Linked DNA regions of Homo sapiens: all the other regions are linked to region 1. Evidence: fine-mapped expression QTL. A gene starts in region 1. Each other region holds a variant in brackets. All regions are shown on one strand. Distances are from middle to middle.

Evidence for each region.
Region 2: its variant is fine-mapped to the expression of HOXA5 in sigmoid colon (GTEx, PIP above 0.99).
Region 3: its variant is fine-mapped to the expression of HOXA5 in whole blood (INTERVAL, PIP above 0.99).

The regions. Positions count from the first base shown.
Region 1 is chr7:27,139,121-27,147,302 of GRCh38, forward strand. HOXA5 (homeobox A5) reads right to left here and starts at 4,561. Exons shown (of 2, transcript NM_019102.4): 1 at 3,926-4,561; 2 at 1,932-2,965. The coding sequence starts at 4,487. The coding sequence ends at 2,715. HOXA3 (homeobox A3) reads right to left here. Exons shown (of 6, transcript NM_153631.3): 2 at 963-1,066. It overlaps HOXA6 (homeobox A6), which reads right to left. Exons shown (of 2, transcript NM_024014.4): 2 at 6,276-6,797. The coding sequence ends at 6,538. It overlaps HOXA-AS3 (HOXA cluster antisense RNA 3), which reads left to right and starts at 1,244. Exons shown (of 3, transcript NR_038832.1): 1 at 1,244-1,419. RefSeq lists an enhancer at 390-968.
Region 2 is chr7:26,345,501-26,353,682 of GRCh38, forward strand. It overlaps SNX10 (sorting nexin 10), which reads left to right. Exons shown (of 7, transcript NM_013322.3): 2 at 920-966. The coding sequence starts at 943. Among named protein-coding and RNA genes, the nearest start is that of LINC02981, 49 kb to the right of the region's middle. RefSeq lists enhancers at 107-1,034, 2,961-3,110. The variant G/A (reference allele first, on the strand shown) is at 4,019.
Region 3 is chr7:26,910,159-26,918,340 of GRCh38, forward strand. No RefSeq gene overlaps it. Among named protein-coding and RNA genes, the nearest start is that of SKAP2, 50 kb to the left of the region's middle. The variant C/G (reference allele first, on the strand shown) is at 3,787.

The DNA.
Region 1 (8,182 bases):
GAGAGGGAGAAGAAAGGCAAAGCGGAAGAAAAGAAAGCGCTTTAACCCCTTTCAATTAGCCTGGGGATTCAAAGACTAAAGTTAAATCCGGCCATAAAGTTTATTGCTTCAGACTCACAAGCGGCTGAGAACAGTCCCGCCGAAATAAAAAGAACATGCAGGCAAACAGGGTTCAGGGCCTGGTCCCGGGTGCGGGGGAGGGGGTCCTGAACACCCCCCCACACCAGGGTGGGGATCCTTGGTCCTCAGGGTCCAGTGGGCGCTAGCAGCCCAGGATCCACCTTGCAACCCGGGGGCCCAGCCTGGAGGTGCAGCCCCAGCCTCGCCGGCCTCTGCCACCCTCCCGCTCTCGCGAGCTAGCCTGAAACCCGGCCCCGAAGGCCGCCGCCTCAATTCAGCCCTGCCAAATGACCCCGGCCCGCGAAGACATATTGCCACAGCCCCGTAAGGAATCCCGCCAGAGTCCGCCTCGGCCCTGCCCCGGCCTTTCTTTCAAACTCCTGAGCGCAGCGCGGCCCTCGGCGCCCGCGGCCGGCGCCCCACTGTCTCCCAGCCCCGACCCCAGGGCTCCGCGACCCCCAGGAGCTGGCCCCGGCCGGCCCAGCAATTGCGCGGGGGACTGGGGGTGCGGCCCTGCCAGGTCCCCACACACAGGCCCATTCGCACACAAAAATCATCTTTTTGCACGCCGGCGGGAGCAGCGGAAGTCATTAACATCCGCGGTTGTGCTGCAATTAAAGTTAGGCCTGGGGATGCGGCGCGGCCACAGGCGCTGCTCACTCTGCTGCCTCCGCAGAGTTGGCTCCTGGCGCTGCTCTTTTGGGCAGAGGGAAAGTTTGCTCTGCCTTTTCGAATTCAGAGGCAGCCTGAGTTATTGAACCAGAGAGAGAGAGAGAGAGAGAGAGAGAGAGAAAGTTTCCAAAGTACAAATAAACTTGAAAGCGCTCAGGAGGCGAGCTTACCTTAACTCGGAGGGAGCCATTTTTCAGAGAGTTTTGAGAACTTGTGGTTTGGACACTTCTGGACCTAAAATTGACAGTTTGAATGGCCAGGCGGCACACGTAGCCTGCAAAAGAGTCAAATGGAGTCCAGCGTTAGTGAGATTATATGTTATGTGGTATATAATGTTGGATGTCAACTCCCCAAAACCATAAAACTTACTTTAATGGCCCCACGTGACGTTTTATAGCCAGTGAGCCGATCTGTCTGTGCTATGGATGATTTTACGATCTAATTCATAGACAAAACCCTATTCATTTGGCACCCAAATGTCATATAGCCGGAACTGGGGCTTATAAAGTTTACTGTTTTATAACTTTTAAAAGGAAAGACGGCATCAGTGTAAGCAGTCGGTAAATGTGCAAATCTCTAGTTGCGCTTTAGCTGCTCTGAGGAGTTTCCCAATCGAGCTAGGATGGGGTAAGTACCTTCAATTTGTAGCAAATTAATTGTAGCAAAAGAAGCCAACTGGGTCCCGGGTGAAGAGTGGGGAAGGGGTGCTGGGATGGGTTAAGGGCAGAGGGTTTGGGGTCCACAGACAGACATAGCAGCGTCTTCAGCAAGTGGAGGCCTAGGACAGCCTTAGGAAAGAGGCAGGATCTGTGTGGCCTGAGGGCGGCTAACAAAGCCCTGGGTTTTTTCTCCTTTTTTCTTGCTCTTTCTCTCTTTTTTGTACCCAGCAAGTTAACTTGGTTTCCTCAGAGATGGACAGGGTGTTCTGGGGCTTTGGAACAGCCTACAGCTTTTTCCACCTTCTGCCCTGAACTTTGCAATGGGTCAGAGGTAGGGAAGCGATGGGACAGTGTTGGTATGAGGTCTCCCTGCACAGGTCATCTGCTCAGGTAGCCTCAGACCCAACAGCTTCCAAGACTGCACAGACAGACAGAAAAGCAGACAGAGCCGCTCACTATTTGGCACAAACCAGACCAAGAGAACTTACAATAGAAAGTTTATTTTTTGTTCCAGTCAGTATTTTTTCCTTAAAAACAAATACAAAAAAAAAAAAAAAAAAAAAAAAGCTGATCACAGTTTGCTTAAAACAGCCAGACTTGGACAATATTTGTAACTTTGTTCACAAAAACATACATCACTGAAGCTGCGCTTATAAGAGCCACTTCCAGAGTTCGTGCAAAGGGTCCTATAAAGGCACGCAGGGACACACCGCTTGGAGTCACAGTTTTCATCACAGAGTCACTAGTCACTACACGTCGAACAAGTTGTGTCTCATCAAGTCACCTCTACAACAGCATTAATTACACAAGGAATATAGGTAGTTTGAATAAAAATATCTTTAACAGCTTGGAGCTATTGAGACAGGAACACTTCCACGCACATGCACAGTTAAACAACTTGAGTGCAACACACAACATTGGCACTAAACGAGATTGAAGGGGGACTTTTTGTGTGTTTTTTTTTCTCTTTTCTTTTTTTGTTATAGTTACTTCAAGTAACACAGCTTGCTTCATATAAATAAGTTAAAACATCTATTTTTTTTCAAGACAAAGCCATTCAGGACAAAGAGATGAACAGAAAGCAGATCTACTTATACAGGCGCTATAATGGCAATAAACAGGCTCATGATTAAAAGATGAATTAGGGCAACGAGAACAGGGCTTCTTCACAGAAGGAACACAAGGGAGTTTCAGAAAGTCACCTTAGTACTGACACTACGCGGGATCCGCTAATACTGCTCAGTACTTTAAACGCTCAGATACTCAGGGACGGAAGGCCCCTCCTGCCGCGGCCATGCTCATGCTTTTCAGCTTATTATCTTTTTTCCACTTCATTCTCCGGTTTTGGAACCAGATTTTAATTTGTCTCTCGGAGAGGCAAAGAGCATGTGCTATTTCAATCCTCCTTCTGCGGGTCAGGTAACGGTTGAAGTGGAACTCCTTCTCCAGCTCCAGGGTCTGGTAGCGCGTGTAGGCCGTCCGGGCCCTTTTGCCTTCCGGGCCGCCTATGTTGTCTGCAATAGAAAAGTCAGCGGTTTAGCCACCAACTCCTGTCTTCCAAAGTCCGCCAGGGGGACAAGCTTGGGTCATGAGCAGGGAACCCAGGCGAAAAGCTCAACAAGTTCTGCCTACCAGCCCGCACACCCCTCCCGAATTTCCTTCTCTCTTCCTTTCTAGAAAGAAAACAATACGATTTGGACCCTGGGAACAATCTGCCCATCTGAGGCTGGGGCCGTGTCCCGGCGGACTCCGGCTTTCCCTGGCCCCTCTCCTGCCCCCTCCGCCCTGCCCCGGGCGCCCCGATCGGGAGGCACAGCCCTCCCAGGCTGCCCACCGCACAGAAACCCAGGAAGCAAGGCCCTTTCCTGAGCGCCCAAGTGGCCTTCGGGTCACCCTCCCTCAAAGTTCCAGCCCCGAGAGCCGCCTCCCGTTTCCAGCCTGCAGGGTTGGGGAGCCTGTTTTCTTTTTCTTCCCTTTCCTTCTCTCTCCCTCCTGCCCCCAAAATTCAGAATCCTGCAGGCTCTCGCCTCGATTCTTTCCCCCAAGCCCCTTTTCGGGGGCTGTAATTAGTAACGCTGTTTCCCCAGCGTAGCCCTCCTCATAAATTATCCGCCGTGACAAGCCCGATTCACGGCTGCTACAGCCATCCTCTACCTCTCTGCGCCTTGCTCGGCTGGCCTGACCCGGGAGCGCGTCCCAAGGCGTGGGGTTCCAGAGGGGTTTTTTGCTTCCTCCCCCTTCCAACGTCTAAACTGTCCCAGAGAACGCCCATTTCCCCCACTATTTGTGAGCGCAGGGTGCTCGCAAAGAAGAGGAGGAAGGAGGAAGGCAGGGGAGGGAGAACGGCAAGGAGAGCTCCGCAGGGCTGGGAGAAATGAGACCAAGAGAGACTGGGAGAGGGCGGCAGAGAAGAGAGGGGGGACCGAGAGCCGCGTCCCCGCGGTCGCGTGGATTTAGAAAAAGGCTGGCTTTACCATGACTTATGTGCAGCTTGCGCATCCAGGGGTAGATCTGGGGTTGGGCGGGCGGCGCCGGGCTCGGCTCGCTCTGCGCACTCGCCTGCTCGCTGCTGGCAGGGGCGTCCTCCTCGGCTCCGGACGCCGTGCCAACCCCCTCTCTGCTGCTGATGTGGGTGCTGCCGGCGTCGGCCGAGGCGCCGCTGGAGTTGCTTAGGGAGTTTTTCCCGCCGTGGTGGCTGTCGCTGCCGGGCGAGGGGGCCACGGCGGAGCAGGGCAGCGGATCGGGCTGAGGAGAGTGCGTGGACGTGGCCGGCTGGCTGTACCTGGGCTCGGCGGGCGCCGCGCTGGCGCTGGCAGCGTAGCTGCGGGCGCGCTCTCCGGAGCCAAAGTGGCCGGAGCCCGAGCGGCCGACGCTGAGATCCATGCCATTGTAGCCGTAGCCGTACCTGCCGGAGTGCATGCTCGCCGAGTCCCTGAATTGCTCGCTCACGGAACTATGATCTCCATAATTATGCAACTGGTAGTCCGGGCCATTTGGATAGCGACCGCAAAATGAGTTTACAAAATAAGAGCTCATTTGTTTTTTGATATGTGTGCTTGATTTGTGGCTCGCGGTCGTTTGTGCGTCTATAGCACCCTTGCACAATTTATGATGAATTATGGAAATGACTGGGACATGTACTTGGTTCCCTCCTACGTAGGCACCCAAATATGGGGTACGACTTCGAATCACGTGCTTTTGTTGTCCAGTCGTAAATCCTGCCTGATGACCTCTAGAGGTAAACTCGTGCACTAATAGGGGAGTTGGGTGGAGGCGAGGGGGGTGGCGCGCGCGCCCCGGGCGCGTGCCCGCCGCCAGTTGCCGCCGTTCAGCCGGACTCGAGCGCCACCCGCTGGAGGCAGGGCTCATCGCCCAGCTTCCGACCGGGGGCTGCAAGGGCCGGGGTCGAATTGAGGTTACAGCCCATTATGGCAAAATTATTGCATTTCCCTCGCAGTTCCATTAGGATGTACCAATTGTTAGGCCGTCAGCTGCCGATCGCGCGCCCGGCGAGGATGCAGAGGATTGGGGGGAGGTGGTGACTTGCATTTTATTTACAACAACTTTATTTCCCCCGTTTTGCAGCCCCTCTTATTTTTGTGTCGAGGTTGGGGTCGGTACTGACCGTCCTGCCAGCAGCTCTGAATTTTGAAAATACAGATATCACCTTCGGGGAAGGGGGAAAGCCATTTAGCCAATTGGAGAAATAAATCCTGCCCGCAGCAGCAGCAGCTACAATTACGGCTCTGTTTTTGCGAGCGCATGAGGGACAGTGTCCCTGCCGCTCTTAAATGACAGGCGTCTATTAAAGATAGCTTTTGTGTAGTGTTTCTCCAAGGCGAGGTCAAATTCCATACACTTTTATAACCGTAGTCGATTTTTCTTTCGTGTGAATATGGTTTTCGTGTCATTAGTTTGCGATTTGATTTGCTTACGTATCCAGCCTGGAAAATCTTCATCACAGGGTCCGGTTCCTCGAGCCAGCCGGGCCCCAAGTCGGAGGGTTCTCCTTGAACCCAGCGAGTGGGCCCAGGCTCCCTGCAGCCACAGAGGCTGCCTGGGGTCTGGGGATCCGTGGGGCGGGTTACTGGGGTCTTGCTTAGACCTCCAGGAGTAAAATGAGGGCGATAATGGAAGCATTCCTTGGCAGTGCCTAGTATCTCTGTAGTTATTTTCCACGGCTCCGAAAGACTCAAGTAAATCACAAATATAGCTGAGAGGCAAGTGGAGTCTCCCCGCTGGAGGCCCGGCGTTGCAGGCGCCCCTGGCACGTCTGGAAGCCAGGACTCTGGCGGCTCCCATGGCCCTGGGCCCCTCGTTGGGTCCTGAACGCTGCTGTGGCGGCGACGCGGGCGCTATCGGAGGCTGGGAGCGGGAATCCGGAGCCGGGAGCCTACCCCGGGCTGTAATGTTCCACCCGCGCCCAGGTTAACTCGCCTCGGCTGAGGCTGCTTCTCTTCCACTGACGGTTGCACACGCGGGACCGAGAGACTGGGCTCTGTTGGGGCCCCCTTTGTTCCTCGAGCTTCCTTCCTGTTCTGGGAGGCGGCTTGGGAGGCCGCGACAAGGCCGGGCTCCAGCTCTTAGACCCCCTCTTTCCACTGGCCAGAGATGATTTGATGATGCCCTTCGGGACTTACTGGCGAGGGACTTAGGCAGAGACGCCCAGACACGAAACGGGGCTCGGCCCAGGGCTCTTTCCTCCCCAGCAGCCCCGCGTCCCGAGGTCGGGGAGCTCAGAGACACTAGCACAGGAGCCCCAGACGCATTCAGGGCGCACCCCAGAACTCCGGAGCCGGTTTGGGCATCCTTGTGGAGCGGGACTGGGTGTGTGCAGTGCGCCCCGCTCCACCGCTGGTATTGGCTGTGTGTGAGGTTTTGTTTTGTTTTGTTTTGTTTTGTTTTGTTTTGTTTTGTTTTGTTTTGTAAGAAATAAATGCACAGACGCTTGCAAAGCTCCGGGCTCCCCTGAAGCTGCGGAAGCCCCCAGATGGGAGCAGGCGGGGAGAAAAGTTGGGGAACAGGCGAGGGCAAGGGGGCAAAGCCGAAGGAGGTTGCAGCGCTGGCCTGGTCCCTGCCCAGGCATCTACTCGCCCGCCTTTGCCTCTGAGTCCTCCCCGCTGGGCTGCGTGGAATTGATGAGCTTGTTTTCCTTTTTCCACTTCATGCGGCGGTTCTGGAACCAGATCTTGATCTGGCGCTCGGTGAGGCAGAGCGCGTTGGCGATCTCGATGCGGCGGCGCCGTGTCAGGTAGCGGTTGAAGTGGAACTCCTTCTCCAGCTCCAGTGTCTGGTAGCGCGTGTAGGTCTGGCGGCCTCGGCGCCCATGGCTCCCATACACAGCACCTACGAGCAGAAACGGCCGGGCGCCGGTAAGCCAGGGCCTGGAGGGTTGACCCAGTCAGCCCAGTGCCTCCCACAAGAGGCACCCAGACTAGAAACCACCCCGCCTCCACTCCAGCCTCTCCCACTATGTCTGGGGCCCAAAGCATACTGAATGGGAGATTATTTCATACCAAGCGAGATGTTTTCCACCTATAACGACTTGGGGTGGACATTATCGTTTTTGAAAAATCTGCCTCATAGGAAAACCATTACAAGCAAAATAACAGAATGAGCATTCTTAATTTGGGATGCCCAGGTCGTGTTTTTGTGGGGATGCAGGGTGTGTGTGTGTGTTTGTGTGTGTGTGTGTGTGTGTGTCTGGGGTGGGTGGTGTGGAACCATGTAAGTAGTGTACACACTCTGAATTCATAGTGGTCTCTCTGAGGATGCTACTGTGACCAGCCATGTCGGAACTCAACACATTTTTTGAAGAGTTAAAAATGGTCAGCCCTCTTGAATCTTTACACATTCTCCCAAATTATATGACCCTTCTGAGAAATGCAGAACTCCCCCAAGGATAAAGTGGATGTTAATGGAAAACATTATAATTTTAACAATCCGCATTAGGCTCTGTCCTAGGGAATTCCTAGGAGTCTTTGGGATTCCCTGTGGAGTCCTTGGAAACCAGAGGCTAAGAGATGGAGCTATAGGTAGTCTAGGATTTCTGGCAATGTAGGATTGTGTTGGGCTGTCTGATCTGGTGCCAAAGTTCCCCAAGGGTGGTGGGGGGTCCCTCCAAGACAGGTGTATGAAGCTCAGGCATGGGCTCAGAAGAGGGCAGAAGTTGGCTAAGAGTGGGCAGTTGAGTAGAAGCCGGGGGAGATGAGGGAGGAGAGAGAAAAAAATCCTGAGTCTGGGGCTGTGGCCCTCCAAGGCTTTGGGGAGACACTGGAAGAGGCCAAATGGCCACCTCTCTGTACGGGTTTCTGAAGGGCAGAAAGGAGAGGGGGTTGGGAAGCAAAGGGTATTTATCAGTGACGCAGTGCAAAAGGCCCTCTGGCTTGGGAAGCTGAGCAGGGTACTCAGGGTGCATGGACAGGCTGTCCCTCCCCACCAGCCTCTCTCTCTCTTCAGGCTGTCCCTGTCACAGGTCTCATATACGTGCCAGTGCCCCCATCCTCCCCTAAGGTGTCAGCTTACATGGACACTGGGGCCTTGCCCTTCCTCTGCCATGGCCTGATAGCCCCATTGGGAACTGATTTTTTCTTCTCTTTTAAGAAGCCAAAGAAACTTTGCTGGTTCTTTCATCCTTTCTTTCTCTCTATTCCTCTTTCTACTCTGTTTCCTCCTTCTTTCTTTCTTTTCCTGCCTCCTTTCCCCTCTCCCTCCACTGTCTTGGGATATGT
Region 2 (8,182 bases), 790 kb before region 1:
CCAGAGGCCCTGTGGGGTCTCTCGTCTGCACCTCCACACGGCCCTGGAAGCGGAGCCTGTGTTCCTGCTTCCCTGTGTTCCCTATGGTGCCAGTGACATGAGTATAGAGACTCTGGGAATACGTGTGGGGGATAATAGGGACCCGGAAAGTGGGCTCAGACACATACTGATATTATCAAAGTGAAGGCAAATAGTAGACCTGCAGTCATAGTCACCCTCAGTTGTAAGAATACATATGTGTGGATATAGGCAGGGAATTTAAATTTGCTTTTTGTTTTTGGCAGGGAGCAGGTGTTAAATCTAATGAGCTTACATACCAAGTGGGTTTAAAGAACAATTGACAACCCCAGAGACATGCAGGGCCTGGAATCAAACAACAGGCTGGCTGCACTGCTCAGAAGGTCAGAGTCAAGGTCCTGGCTTTATCCCGCTGAGGGCCACACCATCTCTTATGTGACCTCTGGAGTAATATAAGTGTCACAGGAAGGGCCTGATCCCAGAAGGTTTGAGTTTCCGGTAAAAGCGTCAGGGCTGCCTCTGGTGGTGGATCTCTCTGCGCGTCTTTTCCAGCCAGCATCCCCCCGCACATGGCTTCTGCTCCCCGGCATCTCCAGCTTCCTCGCCAATTCACTAAGGCTCCAGCCCCAGCCTGACTGGCTGGCCTTGCGGTTTGAAGGTCTGTCATCATCCAGCTGCCTTGGACTCTTTGGGGTCCAGACTCCTAACCCCTGGTGTGGACTGATGTTCACCTTGGTCCTGCCAGCAGGAGAGGGCAGCGTGGGAGGAGCAGAGGCTCACATGTCAGGGACTGTGGGGCGGGGGGGGCTCTGTCAGGGGATTTGGGTGGGAGGCCATGAGTGGTGTATCCACTCCAGTTTGGAGGTTCCAAATGACCCAGTGTGGATATCTTATTTTTCAGATTGATCGTGTCCTGTGCTGAAGATGTTTCCGGAACAACAGAAAGAGGTATGTCATCACAAATCCAAAAATAAATAACCCACTTATTTTGATTCACACAGGTTAGTTCTTCATTTGCGAACCATAAACCCATGGGTTGCTTGAGGAGGTTTCATGAAAGACCAAAGGCCCACCCTCCTGTACCTGCTCCTCTACTCCCACCATTGGTGCCTGCATAGCCTTCATTTTGGGTTCCAGTGACTCAGCTGTGGAGCACATTCCCACCCACAGCTCGTGACTCAGAATTCTCCCAGGCTCTGCCTCCCACCCCTTGGCTTGGAGCAGTATCCATCCAGTCTGCCTTCCTGCTTTTTTACTCCATTGACTCATCCCTGAATTCTCCTTCCTTCAGGTAGCAGCCCAGGGGAATTTCTGCCATTAGTTTCAGGTTTGCCCCACTTGTTGCCTGGGCTTGGTTTCATACAACACTGGCAAAACTGGCCCTTCTGCCTGCAGCCTGGCTTCCCAGGCCTCCATGCCCGCCCCCTGAGCCTCTCCCTGACTGGGAGGAGCGTAGGACAGCCCTCATGCCAGCCCCGGCTGAGTGTCCCTCCTTTGGCAGTACGCATTGCCCTGCCTGCTGTGGTGCAGTGCACATCATCACTTGGTGAGGCTGATGAAGTGGAGAAGCAGCACAGGGGCCTGTCTAGGGAGTGTGCACACACACGTGCACACACATGCACACGAGTCACACATTCACACAGTCACATGGTCCCAGCTCACCCTGCACAAGTGGAAAGCATGAAACCATTTATTTCAGAGAATCTTTCCAGAAAGTCCTTTGCTAGCTCTCACATCTTTAATTTCAGCCCTATCTTTGGCTTCAGGTTCTTCTCAGCAGTCCAGCCTTGCTTGCATCCCTTAACTCTAGGCTGGGCTTCCCCATTTTCAAAGGCAGTGTTTTGGTTTGTTTTTTAACTTTTAAAAATTGGGCTAGACGGGCATGGTGGCCTGTGCCTGTGGTCCTATGTACTCAGGAGGCTGAGGTGGGAGGATTGCTTGAGCCTGGGAGCCAGAGGTTGCAGTGAGCCAAGATTACGCCACCACACTTCAGCCCCGGCGACAGAGCAAGACCCTGTCTCAAACGAAAAACCAAAAACCAAAATAATTGGCTGGGCACCATGACTCATGCCTGTAATCCCAGCACTTTGGGAGACCGAGGTGGTTGGATTACTTGAGGTCAGGAGTTCGAGACCAGCCTGTCCAACATGGGGAAACCCCATCTCTACTAAAAATACCAAAATTAGCTGGGCGTAGTGGCATGCGTCTGTAGTTCCAGCTACTTGGGAGGCTGAGGCACAAGAATCTCTTGAACCTGGGAGGTGGAGGTTGCAGTGGGCTGAGATCATGCCACTGCACTCCAGCCTGGGTGACAAAGCGAGACTCTGTCTCAGAAAAAACCCACAAAAAACAAAAAAATTGGGCTATAATATGTATAGTAAAATGCATAAAGTGTTCCAATCTTATGTATGTAGCTCAATGGATTTTTGTCTTTTTGTTTTAGTAGAGACAGGGTCTCTCTTTGTTGCCTAGATTGGTCTCGAACTTCTGGCTTCAAGCAGTCCTCCTGCCTCAGCCTCCCAAAGAGCTGGGATTGCAGACATGAGCCACTGATCATGGCCTAAATGGATTTTTATATACCTGTGTAACTACCACTCAGATCAAAGTATAGATGTTTCTGGCTCCCCAGAAGGTACCGTGTGCCCTTTTCCAGTCAGTCCCCCTCACTTCCACCCCTAGAGGTGACCTTCCACAATACCTATACCAGGCATGCTTTTTTCCATCTCATTTTAAGTAATCCTGAGACCAAGCTGCTTGTTCCGGGAAATACCCGCCCATGAAGTTAATGAAACTGCAAGGTTAAGGGCATAGTTCCCACAGGACTGCCCTTGTCTTCAACACCAATTGCAAGCTTGGGGCTTTCCTGAACCACCTTCAAGTTTAATAATTCACAAGAAAAACTCACAGAACTCAGAGCTATTATCCTCACAGACGCTGCTTTTTATAGAGAAAGAACACAAACGAGAACCAGCCAAAGCAAGAGCTGGACGCATGGGCAGTCAGGTGGGGTCCAAGGACAGAGCTTCTGGTCGTCCTCCCAAAGGAGCCATGGGCGGAGTTATCCTCCCAGCACCCATGTGTGGCAGTGTGCAGAGTCACTTGGTGTAGCTGGAATGATCGCCTGGCGTCAAATCCATTGCCCTTAGAACAAAGTCAAAACACCTGCACGTGGTCTCTAGCACTCTGCAGGATCCAAACCTCCTTCTTTCTCCAGACTTCTTTCCTGTGCCCCACCTACCACTCCAGTGCACTTCTTGTTCCTTATTTCAGAGCTTATTTTAGAGCCTTGAATGCTCCATGCACTCTGACCCCCATGGACTTTTACAGATGTTTTTTTCCACTGCCTGGAATAATCTCTTCCCCTAGCCTTTGTACTGTGTTGACTGGCTAACTTCTACTTATCCTTCAGGCATTGGCTTAGAAGTCAAGAAGAAGCTTTCTAAACCTTTAACTATAAAAGATATTTTTATCTAATCAGCTCCTCAACAGCACCCTGTAGTCAATGCCAGTTAGAAATAGAGAAGGTTTAGGTCAAGCCTTTCATATCCTAGTGTCTGGTTGTTTAGTGGAAAGTAATTCAGGTTCCACCTAATCGAATATGTAAGGACCAAATGCAGTATGACTGATTGTTTTGGAATCTAGACCAAGGGTACAGTGAGTATGGAAGCACTTTTCTCTCAGTACCCACAGCAAACATTACTAATTAATCATGAGGTTGGCACGTGAATTGAGATTTATTTACCATCCTCGTAACAAGATTCATACAGCCTGGGAGTGACATCTTGGTTCTGTCTAAATGGTAGTACTGACCTTAAAATTTAGTAATTTTTTTTTTTTTTTTACATTTTGGGGGTGAGGAATCAAATGTAGTCTCTCTTGTTAAAACAGCTTTATGACTGTAATAAATCTAGAAAGAGGAGAAAAGGGAGTGAGAATCTCCCTTGTTAGTTAAGCATGTTCCATTTGCACATTGGTTTGAATTCCCAGGAGAGCAGTATCC[G/A]AGCTGATGGATCTTCTCCATAAAAAGGCCTTGGCATTGGGCCATTGTGAAATTAAAATGAATTCAGAGTCATTCATGCATGCAACTTTAATTTACAATTAAAATATTATGGTTACATATTTTAATAAGAATAATTAGATGGACCCAACTGAATCAACTCTTCTGTTTAATGAGACAGAACCCAGACTCCAAATGGAAAGGCAGGTGGCTGTGACAGGAAGCGCATTTCAGACAGTGTCTTTTGTGGAGCTAGGCATTTTTATTCTTTTTATATTCGAATGTCCAGAGTGAGCTGTTTGATTTTTCTACACTACTCAGGATGCTTGCCTCAGCCTTGCTGAACTCATCTTGTGGGGTGTATGAGTGAGCATTTGCTCCAGCTGCACACAGTCCCTTTCATGGAGTCGGACATTCTTGCCCAAGCGCCTGCTCCCTCCTCCATAAGGGCACTGGGCTCTTTCCTTGGCACAGGGCTCACTTGGTGTAACTAGACTGTTCCTCCCTGTGTGATGTGACCTGAAGTGTGGGCTGAAACCCCTTTTGAATGTATGTGTGCATGCGTGCATATCTCCCCTGCTCTCCTGGATCATGATGGCTGCATTCTACTTTTAGAGATTCATCCCTTTAGGATAACTGATTTTCCCCTTCCCAAATGCACATGCTTCATACTAGGTATAACAGCAGCTTCTAGGCAACTCCAGTTATTGACACCTTAGCGATGATATATCCATCACTTCTTTGGCAGGGAATATCCTGAGTAGGACAGGCCGAAGTGGGCCCCAGAGAGTTGCACAAACCATGAGGACCCCACCACTGAGGGAGGAGATGGGGCACTATGGGGAGAGCCGGCAGGGAGGGATGTGTTGCCATTTTGGATGAGCAGCCCCTAAGGTTAATATTAATATGTCTAAGATATGCTTATGCTGACCCATGGTAATATTTTGGACTTCCTCTAGGAAAGCATGCTTTTGATATTCGGAAACTGACTGGAAACTGACTGGTCTGGAACTGATGAATACCTTTAACAAATAAATAATATTAGCTAGGATCCTGTGATGCTGGGTACTTTGATGGGAAGCAACAAGACAGAACATTTTCTCACTCCCCAAAACCTAAATTTGTTGTTCCTCTCTCCCTCCTTTCTTCCTCCCTTTTTCCCCTCCCACCCTCCCTCCCTCCATTTTTCTCAGTCTCTGTTATACTCAGTTATTAAGTGTTCCTGTTTGAAAAAATAGTTAAGTTTCCATAAGAGGCAATTTACAGTCTTCTGTAAGCAAAGAAAGGCAGCTGGGAATATTGTCTTCACACATACACACCAGGTTTCAGAGAAGGCTGTTACCATTCTGAGCGCTACATTAGTGTTACAGGTACTGTGAGGACTCTGATATTTTTTTCTGAGCTTGTCCCAGAGAAAGATCTTCATTCCTTTTTTTTTTCTTAACTCTTCTTCCAGATTTTAAAATAATTGTTCACTGCAGAACATTTTTGGAAAAGTATACAGGAAAAAATAAAACTTTGAGCTATTTCTTTCTAGTCTTTTTCTATATATATGTATATGTCATTTTTAGAAAATTGAGATCATACAGAATTTATAGTTTAATATCTCACTCTTCCAGCTCAGTGTTCTAACACATTTCAAGAAATACTTCACCAGCTCTGATTAAATTAGAAGTGGCTTAGGAAAAGAAAGAATTAGTAAACATAAATTCATCTTTGAATTGTTAAGAAATGAACAAAGAATAACTTTACAGTGGAGAAATCTGACAAACACTTCCTCAGCCAGGTGATCACTGTTAACACCCACAGTGATGTTATGTTGCTAGCATGTGGAAGTGATATCACCTGGAAGTGATAAAAATGGCACTTTACCCTCTGAAATAGGTAGCCTTCCTTCCAAAAACCTATAACACCAATCTAATCATGAGACAAACATCAGACAAATCTGCAGAATACCTGCGAGGGCTCCTCAAATTGTCAAGGTCATGAAAAACAAGGAATGCCTGAGAAGCTGTCATAGCCAAGAGGAGCCCAAGGAAACACAATGACCAAATATAATGTATCTCGAGTGGGATCCTGGAACAACAGATTAATGACATTAGGTGAAAACTAAAGCAATCAAGCAGTCTGGTTTTTTTTTTTTGTTTTTTTTTTTTTTTGAGACCGAGTCTCTCTCTGTCGCCCAGGCTGGAGTGCAGTGGTGCGATCTCGACTCACTGCAAGCTCCACCTCCCGGGTTCACACCATTCTCCTGCCTCAGCCTCCTGAGTAGCTGGGACTACAGGTGCCTGCCACCACGCCCAGCCAATTTTTTGTATTTTTAGTAGAGGCGGGGTTTCACCATGTTAGCCAGGATGGTCTAGATCTCCTGACCTCGTGATCCGCCCGCCTCGGCCTCCCAAAGTGCTGGGATTACAGGTGTGAGCCACTGTGCCCGACCAGCAATCTTAATGAAGTATGGACTTCAGTTAATAATAACATGTCAATATTGATTAATGAATTGTTACAAAGGCAGCATGCTAATATAAAATGTTAATAATAGGGGAAGCTGGGTGTGGGATATGTAGGACCACTCTGTACTATCTTCATAATTTCTCTATATCTAAAACTGTTTAAAATAAAAAGTTTATTTTAAAACAAATATCATTGACATATATATGCTCACATAAAAAGATTCTGAAAGATTGTATAGTGAATAAACCAATAAACAAAATAGTATTTATAAATGTAGGTTATGCTCCTGTTTGTGTTAAAAAATTGCATAAAGCTGGGTGTGTTGGTGCATGCATGTAATTCCAGCTACTTGGCCAAGGCGAGATCACTTGAGCCCAGGAGTTCAAGGCTGCATTGAGCGATCATCAATAGCCACAACATTCCACCCTATGCAATGGAGTAAGACCTTGCCTCTTCAACCCCCAAAACAAAAAAATACGCAAGGTAGAGATGATAATAAAATGAACCCCCATATGTGTACCTACCAACCAGCTTCAACAATTTACTAACTCATTATTAACTCATAGCCGAGCTATATCCCCACCCCACCTATTTCCTCCTGCTACCACAGTCAATTATTTGGAAACAAATTCTAGATATTATATAATTTCATCTGTAAATATTTCAGTATGCATTTCTAACAAATGACCTTTTTAAAAAATGAACCACATAATCACATGTTAAATAATTAAACAATTCCTTCATATCATCAAATATTCAATGTGCAAATTACCTTGATTATTTTGAAAAAAATTATATACTTGGTTGTTCTAATTCTCTATTTAATTAGGATTCAGATAAGGACCACACATTGCATTTGGTTGATACATTGTTTAAAGTCTTTAATTCTCTCTTTTCCCCCTTTTGCAATTTATTTGTGGAAGAAATTGCATCTTTTGCCTTATGGAGGTTTTCACATTCTAGATTTTGCTGATTGCATCCTTGTGGATGCCAATTATTTCTTACTGCAGAAGAGGAGGTTTTTTTTTTCTGCACTTTTCCTGATGTGTTACAAGATATGAAAAGGTAACTCGCTGATTTGGGATACTACTTGTGTAAAGAAACTTGCAACATTGTGAGCTATTATAAGTCATGTAAAAGGCAGGTCTAGCTAAATCTCATTCACAGTTGTTTATCCTGAAGTAATAAAAGCTTCTCAAAAAATCATCATTCAGTACCACCAGAGGATGGTATTTAAACATACTCCATGCTGTAGAGTGGCAAGTAATATCCCTTGTCATATGTCTCTTAAGTTATTTGTTACAGCTGTTATTAGGAAATAAAGAAAGGTTGCTTGATATATTCCTTTTGCCCTTCTATTTTGTTATTTGTAAAGAATATAGTATATGAAATGTGCTAGATTTTAGTTGTGAAATTGTTATATGGGGGTCCTGAATAGCACTCTGGTGATTAACACACTGGTAAATGCTTTTTTTTTTTTTTTTTTTTTTTGGTGGGGAGACAGAGTCTTGGTCTGTCGGCCAGGCTGGAGTGCAGTGGCACGATCTCAGTTGCTCACTGCAACCTCCGCCTCCCAGACTCACGCAATTCTCCTGCCTCAGCCTCCCGAGTAGCTGGGATTACAAGTGTGTGCCACCACACCTGGCTAATTTTTGTATTTTTAGCAGAGACGGGGTTTCACCATGTTGGCCAGGCTGTTCTCAAACTCCTCAC
Region 3 (8,182 bases), 230 kb before region 1:
AATATTTATTGAATTAATGAATAAACTCTTTAAAAAGTTTAAACTCACGTATCATTTCATTGCTCTTTTTGTATCGTATTAGCAGACATTTGTGGTTTTCATTGCCAAAAAACAAAAAACACAGGCCAGGCATAGTGGCTCATGCCTGTAATCCCAGCACTTCAGGAGGCTGAAGCAGGAAGATCACTTCAGCCTAGGAGGTCAAGGCTGCAGTGAGTCATGATCGCCCCACCGCATTCCAGCCTGGGTGACAGAGCAAGATGCTGTTGCACAAACAACAACAACAAAACCCCAATGTGACCTAAATGTGGTATCCTGTTCCCAATAGTAGTTACTTTCAAAAAGAGGTAAAACCTCAATGTGAATCCAGCCACTTGCTCAGAGGAGCATCATAAGGAAATAAGAGAAGTCCTTCAAAGCTCCTAGTGAGCGGAGATCAGCTTGTACCCTGAAGCATGAGATTCTATTAGTACCTTTTGTTAGTATTCATAACTAACAGTATTATGACTGGTCATACAATTATCTAGCTTTTCTAATTCATCTCTTGACTGAATCTATGACCTCCCAGGCTAATAAATTCCACAGGTTGGCCATACATTGGGCAAAGAAATATTTTCCTTATGCTTTTTAAATTCTAAATTTATTTCAGCCATTAATTTTACAGAATGAGTGACCCTTGTCTTAACAGTTGGAAGACATAAAATTAAGTAAATTGGACCTCCAATAAGAATGTCATTTTAGCAGTTTTGTGTGGTAATGTTTCATTTATCACGTGAACATGTGGCTGTGTTAGAAGAGTATCAATAGGTAATTATTTTCCTTTCAGATTTTTACTTTCACAGTAGAACAGAAAGGAAATTTCAGGATAAAGATAAAGAGAAAAGAAAGAAAACAAACAAGGGATATATGACACTGTCTGGATCATGGACTGCTATCATTCTACCTGTGTTCTTTAAAATTGCTATGTTCTAAGATAATAAGATAAAAAAAAATGGATTCAATCAGTTTTAAAGCTGAAATTTTCCTGGGTAACAATAACAGCATTTGACTATGTTTATCCCTTAGATTAGAAGCAAATGAAAGAAAAAGGATTTGCTGTTGACGGAATTTTATTCTTAAGGCTAATGGTGCCTGTAAAACAATTAACAAAGTATTTTTTAATATAATTACTGCCTGGGATCTGTGTGTATGTGTCATTTTTCACAGTCTGTTTCATTGAAATGTATAAGGTCAGCTAATAAGAAGCAGTTTGCTGGCCAGGCATGGTGGTTCATGCCTGTAATCCCAGCACTTGGGGAGGCAGAGGTGGGTGGATCATGAGGTCAGGAGTTGGAGACCAGCTTGGCCAACATGGTGAAACCCCATCTCTACTGAAAGTACAAAAATTAGCCGGGCATGGTGGAGCATGCCTGTATTCCCAGCTACTCGGGAGGCTGAAGCAGAAGAATCACTTGAACCCGGGAGGCGGAGGTTGCAGTGAGCAGAGATCGCGCCACTGCACTCCAGCCTGGGTGACACAGCAAGACAGCAAGACTCCGTCTCCAAAAAAAAAAAAAAAGAAGAAGAAGAAGAAGCTGCTGTCTGCTGCGTGATTAATCAGGAATCAGGTTGGGGGCCTCAGTAGGATTAAGCCTTGGAATAAACAAGGATTATTTATTTATTTAGCTTTGGTAATTTGGAAAAGCTTTACTCACTGAACTAATCACAAATTTTTTTGTAAGAACACAAGATTCCCCATTATTTAAGTTTACACTCCTGATAACCTCTTTTTTTTTTTTTTTAGACAGGGTCTTGTTCTGTCACCCATGCTGGAGTGCAATGGCTCGATCACAGCTCACTGCAGCCTTGACCTCCTGGGCTCAAGCAATCCTCCCACCTCAGCTGGGATAACAGGCATGCATTACCATGCCTGGCTAATTTTTGTATTTTTTGTAGAGATGGAGTTTTGCCATGTTGCCTAGGCTGGCCTCAAACTCCTGGGCTCAAGGAATCCTCCTGCCTTGACCTCCCAAATTACGGAGATTACAGGCATGAGCCACCACATCTGGTCCCAATGATTATTAGGAATAATACACAATCTTAATACAGAGCAAGAAATGGTGGACATTGGGGAGTAAAACAGTGAAGCATTTTGCCACTGATGGGTTTCAGAGAATGAAAATGTGCACACTGATAAAATAACTAATATTGAAGATTATAATGTATTGTTAATCAATATCTGCATATGTTGGCACACATGCATTAGAAAAAAAAATTACAGCTGGAAAGAATTTTGCAATCATATGGCACAACTTCAACATTTCAGTGAAGAGGAACTATGAACCTGAGAAGTGATGTGTACAAGGTAACAGAGCTACTTAATGGAAGGCAGAAAGGTTGGGCAACAGTGCTAACTTTCTTCAACAGCAACAATTCTGCCTAGGTCATAATAACATCTTGAAAAAGGAGAACCCTCTGACATGTGACCAAAGTCTGGTCACCTTTAAGATTTCACCCCAGGCTGTTTTTTGCTCAAGCCCAGATAAATCTGCTCTCTTTCTCCAGAGCCTGGAATGCTAGAAAGACTCTTTTACTTTGGGCACAATCAGTGGAAAAGCAACTTAGAAACTTACAAGGAAAGAGTTGCAGTGGTGCTTCTTCCTCCATAATCTCCCTGCCAAAAGATTAGAGTAACTAAATTCTTTTCAGTAGTGTAGCCTTCAATACATATGACAACACTCATGAGTGTGTTGATCTAATATATACTAAGATATTATTTCTAAAAACGTATGATTCAAATTTTCTTTATATTATGACAAATAATTATAATATTAGGTCACATATTATGGGTCTGGCCAGAGGCATGGAATCATGCTACTGTTGCTTCTACTACCACTAGTTCTCTACTCTATAGAGATATTTTTATGCTTTGTATGTCATTCTGTCACATGAAGTGTGTTGTAATGAGTATATTTATGAGTCTAGCCATTGGGAGTGGAAACTGATGTATTATGTAGCCTTGCACCTCATGTGCAGCTGAATTATAATGTAGATCTTAACAGCCAAGAAGTCTGTAATCAGAGAAAAAAAGAATTTCAAAACATAAACTATGTTCTTGGCACTAGCCTTGAATACTGGACATTCATAACCCACAAGTGCCCAGACTATAAATTTGCAAGTTGCATTAATACGGCAGTAAAAGTCACTCTTCTGAAAGCTGCACTTGTAAAATATTTATAAATTCACATGGTTGTTCCTGGCAAATATCTACATCTGTCAGCTCTGTCTTTTTGCTCCCAAAGCAGCAGAGTTGGTGTCCTGTGTAATTCACAATATGTTCATAAAAAATTATTTTGAAAAATCAAGATAGAAGATATTTTATTCTAAGGGGCAATATATCTGCTCCTCCAATGGTATGGTGTTACTATTTGATCTCCTGAGATCCTTTCTCATCAAGTCTTTTTCTCTGAACAAGATTCCAAATTAGCAAGGCAAGTCCTGTGGAGTTGTCTTTAAAATCTCACATTAATATGTACAACACAGGCCAGGCACGGTGGCTCACACCTGTAATACCAGCACTTTGGGAGGCTGAGGCAGGCAGATCACCTGAAGTCAAGAGTTCGAGATCAGCCTGGTCAACATGCTGAAACCCAGACTCTACTAAAAATTCAAAAAATCACCAAGGGTGGTGGTGGGCACCTGTAACCCCAGCTACTTGAGAGACTGAAGTGGGGGAATCACTTGAACTCGGGAGGCGGAGGTTGCAGTAAGCGGAGATGGCGCTACCGCAGTCCAGCCTGGGCAACA[C/G]AGTGAGACTCAGCCTCAAAAAAAAAAAAAGAAAAAAGTACAACACAGTGGAGTTTTTCCTTCCCAAGTCAATATGTATATCAATGTCACATGGTAAAGGAATTTTCTATGTACATAATCTCCCTATAGTATTTAGGAGATGCTTCATATAGGAGACCTTCTAGATAGACCTGTCTAGATAATTTTTTTTTTCTTAAGCCAGGAAAAAAAATTAAAAGACATCAGATTACATTTTCATATAGATGTATACCATACCGATGTAGTCCATTATTTCTAGTGGGGAGAAAGCCCCCCAAAATCATACCTACTAACAGACTGAGTACTTGACAATAAAATATGCTGTTGTATTTGTATTTGTTTAATTTTTACTGCCATCTAGCTTTTCCTTCCCTCTCTCCCCATGAAAAAGGATTTAGGGGCCGGGCACGGTGGCTCACGCCTGTAATCCCAGCACTTTGGGAGGCCAAGGCAGGTGGAGCACAAGGTCAGGAGATCGACACCATCCTGGCTAACACAGTGAAAGCCTGTCTCTACTAAAAATACAAAAAATTAGCCAGGAGTGGTGGCGGGTGCCTGTAGTCCCAGCTACTAGGGAGGCTGAGGCAGGAGAATGGCATGAACCTGGGAGGCCAAGCTTGCAGTAAGCTGAGATCATGCCACTGCACTCCAGCCTGGGCGACAGAGCAAGACTCTGTCTCAAAAAAAGAAAAAAAAGAAAAAAAAAGAAAAAGGATTTAGGTTGTTTATAATGCAAACATAATTGTTATAAAGACAGAACAGTTAAAGGTGAGATCAGAAATATAAAACACCAGATAGTATTATAGTCCTTAAATTTGGGGAGATAATGCATCCCTTTGAGAATCTGATGAAAACTTTGTGCTCTTTCCCCAGAAAATGCAAATAAGTATATACAAACAAACAAAACACATAACACACACTTTTGTATACTAACTCAGGCATTCAGAGACCACCAACACCATTCCACAGACCACCACAGAGGAAGGAGAAAGAAAATGTATATCAGGAAACTAGAATAAAATTATTAGTACCATTAAGCATGAAGTTTAGCTCTAACTTTTAGTCAATACAGAAGGGAGAATTCAAAGGGTTTCACAGATCTCAATGTTTAACAGAGAAATACACATCAGGTTTTCAGGAGACATATTTTGAGAGGAATTTGTCGGGCGGATGAGTCTCGGATTTATTTTATTTTTTATTTTTTTTGAGACAGAGTCTTGCTCTGTCACCCAGGCTGGAGTGCAGTGGCGCGATCTCTGCTCACTGCAACCTCTGCCACTTGGGTTCAAGCGATTCTCCTGCCTCAGCCTCTGGAGTAACTGGGATTACAGGCGCCCGCCACCACACCTGGCTAATTTTTGTATTTTTAGTAGAGATGGGGGTTTCACCATCTTGGCCAGGCTGGTCTTGAACTCCTGACCTTGTGATCTACCTGCCTCGGCCTCCCAAAGTGCTGGGATTACAGGTGTGAGCCACTGCGCCTGGCCTCAGATTTATTATTAAATACACGATGCGCAATGCCTTTAACAGGAATTTTGCAAAAACGCAAAACTATTTTCACATGGCCATTTTTACATTGTTCCCTTAATAAATCTTGAGGATATTCTTAATAAGTAGTAATTCTTATGAGTAGTTATACCAACTGAGCCTAGATAATCTGGCTTCTGTATCTGACCTGACATAGCAACAAATGGTTTCTCTCTAGAGAAAGCTCCAGTATTCATAAGGCGCAATGTGCTTGCAGCAGCCTTCCTGGAACTACAACTAAGAAGCTGCAGCATCACCAAGGCCTCCTGAGAAATTGTACAGACTCACTAACCCACATACCTGGCAGGACTCATGTGTCAAAAAGGTGACTCTAAGCAAGACGCCAAGAAATACATGAATTTAAGAGGCAAAACTAAAAACTATAAATAGGTTAGAGTGTGAATGAAGGTGTACCCGCCTCGATTTCTGCTCACTGTGGAGAAGCCTATGGTTAAAGCACTGATCTTATTTTGTCCGTTAAAGCCCCTCCAATCAAGTATATGACCTGGGGATGGGAACACTGATTCCATACCAACTGAGGAGTAGAAGAATTCAAAGCTAAAGAACGAAGAATATTATTGCAGATTAAGAATATCATTAGACAGAAATTGACTGTCTGATTATGTTGATTCATCACATGCTATGCTGGTGATCAGCAGCCCAAATGATATACATATACCTTTTTTTTTTCCAAAGAAATTGTCATGTAATCTTTTTATAAGCAGTATGGACTGATACCTTACCAAGCCAGAAGAACAAAATTTCTTTTTCAGATGCTTATGACAAAAGGACTTGGAATTATCTGTCTAAATAATGTCAAAATAGCCATTATTTCCTTCCACAAATGAAGGAACAGGATTGGGGATTAACTTTGTGGAATTCAATTAATTTTGCACTTGGCATAGTATATGGAAACAGTTTACAACATTTGGGCTTGGAGACTCTGGGTTGAATATTTAAACCATTGCTTGAGACATAATCAGTGGATAGAAAATTCTAAGAACAGCAGCCCTACTCCAGAACTTCTAGTGGGTGACATCTGGGGTGAATTAAGTTTCTGTTCTGTCCCAGCTTTAGCTACAGATGTGGAGGTGTAAATGTGCTTTCCAGGAACTGTAGATTATATGAACATGATGTAGACTACTTTTATTAGGAGTTCAAGTACCACATTTCCAGAAATATAAAGAATGACAGCAAGGAAAAAGGCCTTTAGAGCTTAAATTACAACCACATCTAATGAACTCAGAGGTGTTTTTCACTTACTAGGGTATTGCTTTTCAACTCCTGTAGCTTAAATGAATCTAGTGATCATAACAGTAAATATGGTTTCCAAAGGTATCCCAAGAGGTATCATTAGTCACATATTACATCCTTTTCTAATTTGTACACTTTCCATGTTTCAGGGTTTCACAGGACTGCTGAAACCTCCAGAATTTCATGTTTCCCTCAGCAGTCTACAATAACCCTTAATCTGAATGACATGTATTATTTCCTCAGCAAACATGTGATGTGGGAAGCTTAGTAAAAGATTTATTATAAGAAAAGGCTCGATGTTTTATTTCCTCCCCTAATTGAATTCATTATTGCTCTCTGTTTAGAAATGCTATGTTGATGTATTACACCTCAGAACAACTATGAACGTGCCATCTGCAGCAGGAAGGTTTATTAGACTACAAATCAGGATACAGATGTTGGAGGGAAAGCTACGTATGCTAAGTCATAATACATTAAAGCACATTTTAAATCTATATATCATGGTGGTCCAGCAGATTTTTATTTTTTTAAATTAGGTATTGGTACTTATGAAAATTCAGGAACTAGAAGCCCTCTCTTCATATGCATGATAGATAAAGTGATAAGCTGCTGAGGTGATAAGTATAACCCTGTAGATGGGGAAAAGGACTAAGTAACTTCAAAAGAAAAAGCTCACATTCTTATTCCGTAATACTAGTGAAAAGATCCACATTTAAAGTCGGCATTCTAAACCAAATGAGCAGATAAGTCTTTTGGGAGTGTAAATGATCACAGTTTTATTGATCTTTTTCACAAATTTAGATTTTCATCCATTTACTAGAAGAGCATTTATTGAGTACCTGTTACTTGCTAGGTGACTCTAGGATGTGCTCTAGGATTTTATTAAAACGAGACTCAGTTATATTATTTTGATGTAAGAGGAGTTGTTTAATTTTTCTTTCTTTCTCCAACTGTTCAAGTTCAGGCCCAATAATGGACAAATTGCCCGCAGAAAGTTTACAAGAATATATCAACTACTTCATTGGTTGAAAGAATTAGAGGAACCTTGGTCAGCACAGCTGAGAGGATTGCTTTCCTGAGAGATGACATGATTCTCTTCCATTAGGCTCACAAAAATATAACTCAATTGTATCAATCTTAAACAAATAAAATCTAGGATGCTCACATTTTCTAGAAGGATTAATGTTCTGTAGATCTATTGATCTTCTACATTCTTCTTAAAGTATCCAGGGTAATCATTAACAATACTTTGTTTTGATTTACTTGCCTGGTGTCTGAGGCTCTTCCAGCTCTCTACAATACATTTGCGCTTTATTCATGATGCTTATTCTGTAGATAAAGACAGCACATTACTGGCATTTGTAACTGGGAGGCTTAAAATTTTTAAACATAAAATTAGAGATAATCTAATGTTTAGATTAGGGTTAGATTTTTAAATAGGGTATAGAACTTCAAAAGAAGGTGGTTTTCTCTTTCCCTGGAAATATTCAGAAAACAGTCTACCTTTGGTCTTCCAGGAAGCACAGACAAGGGCAATGATTCAAGAAACCACTGTAAAAATGCAGATCTCACCCAGTAAAGGAGAGTATCTTACTTC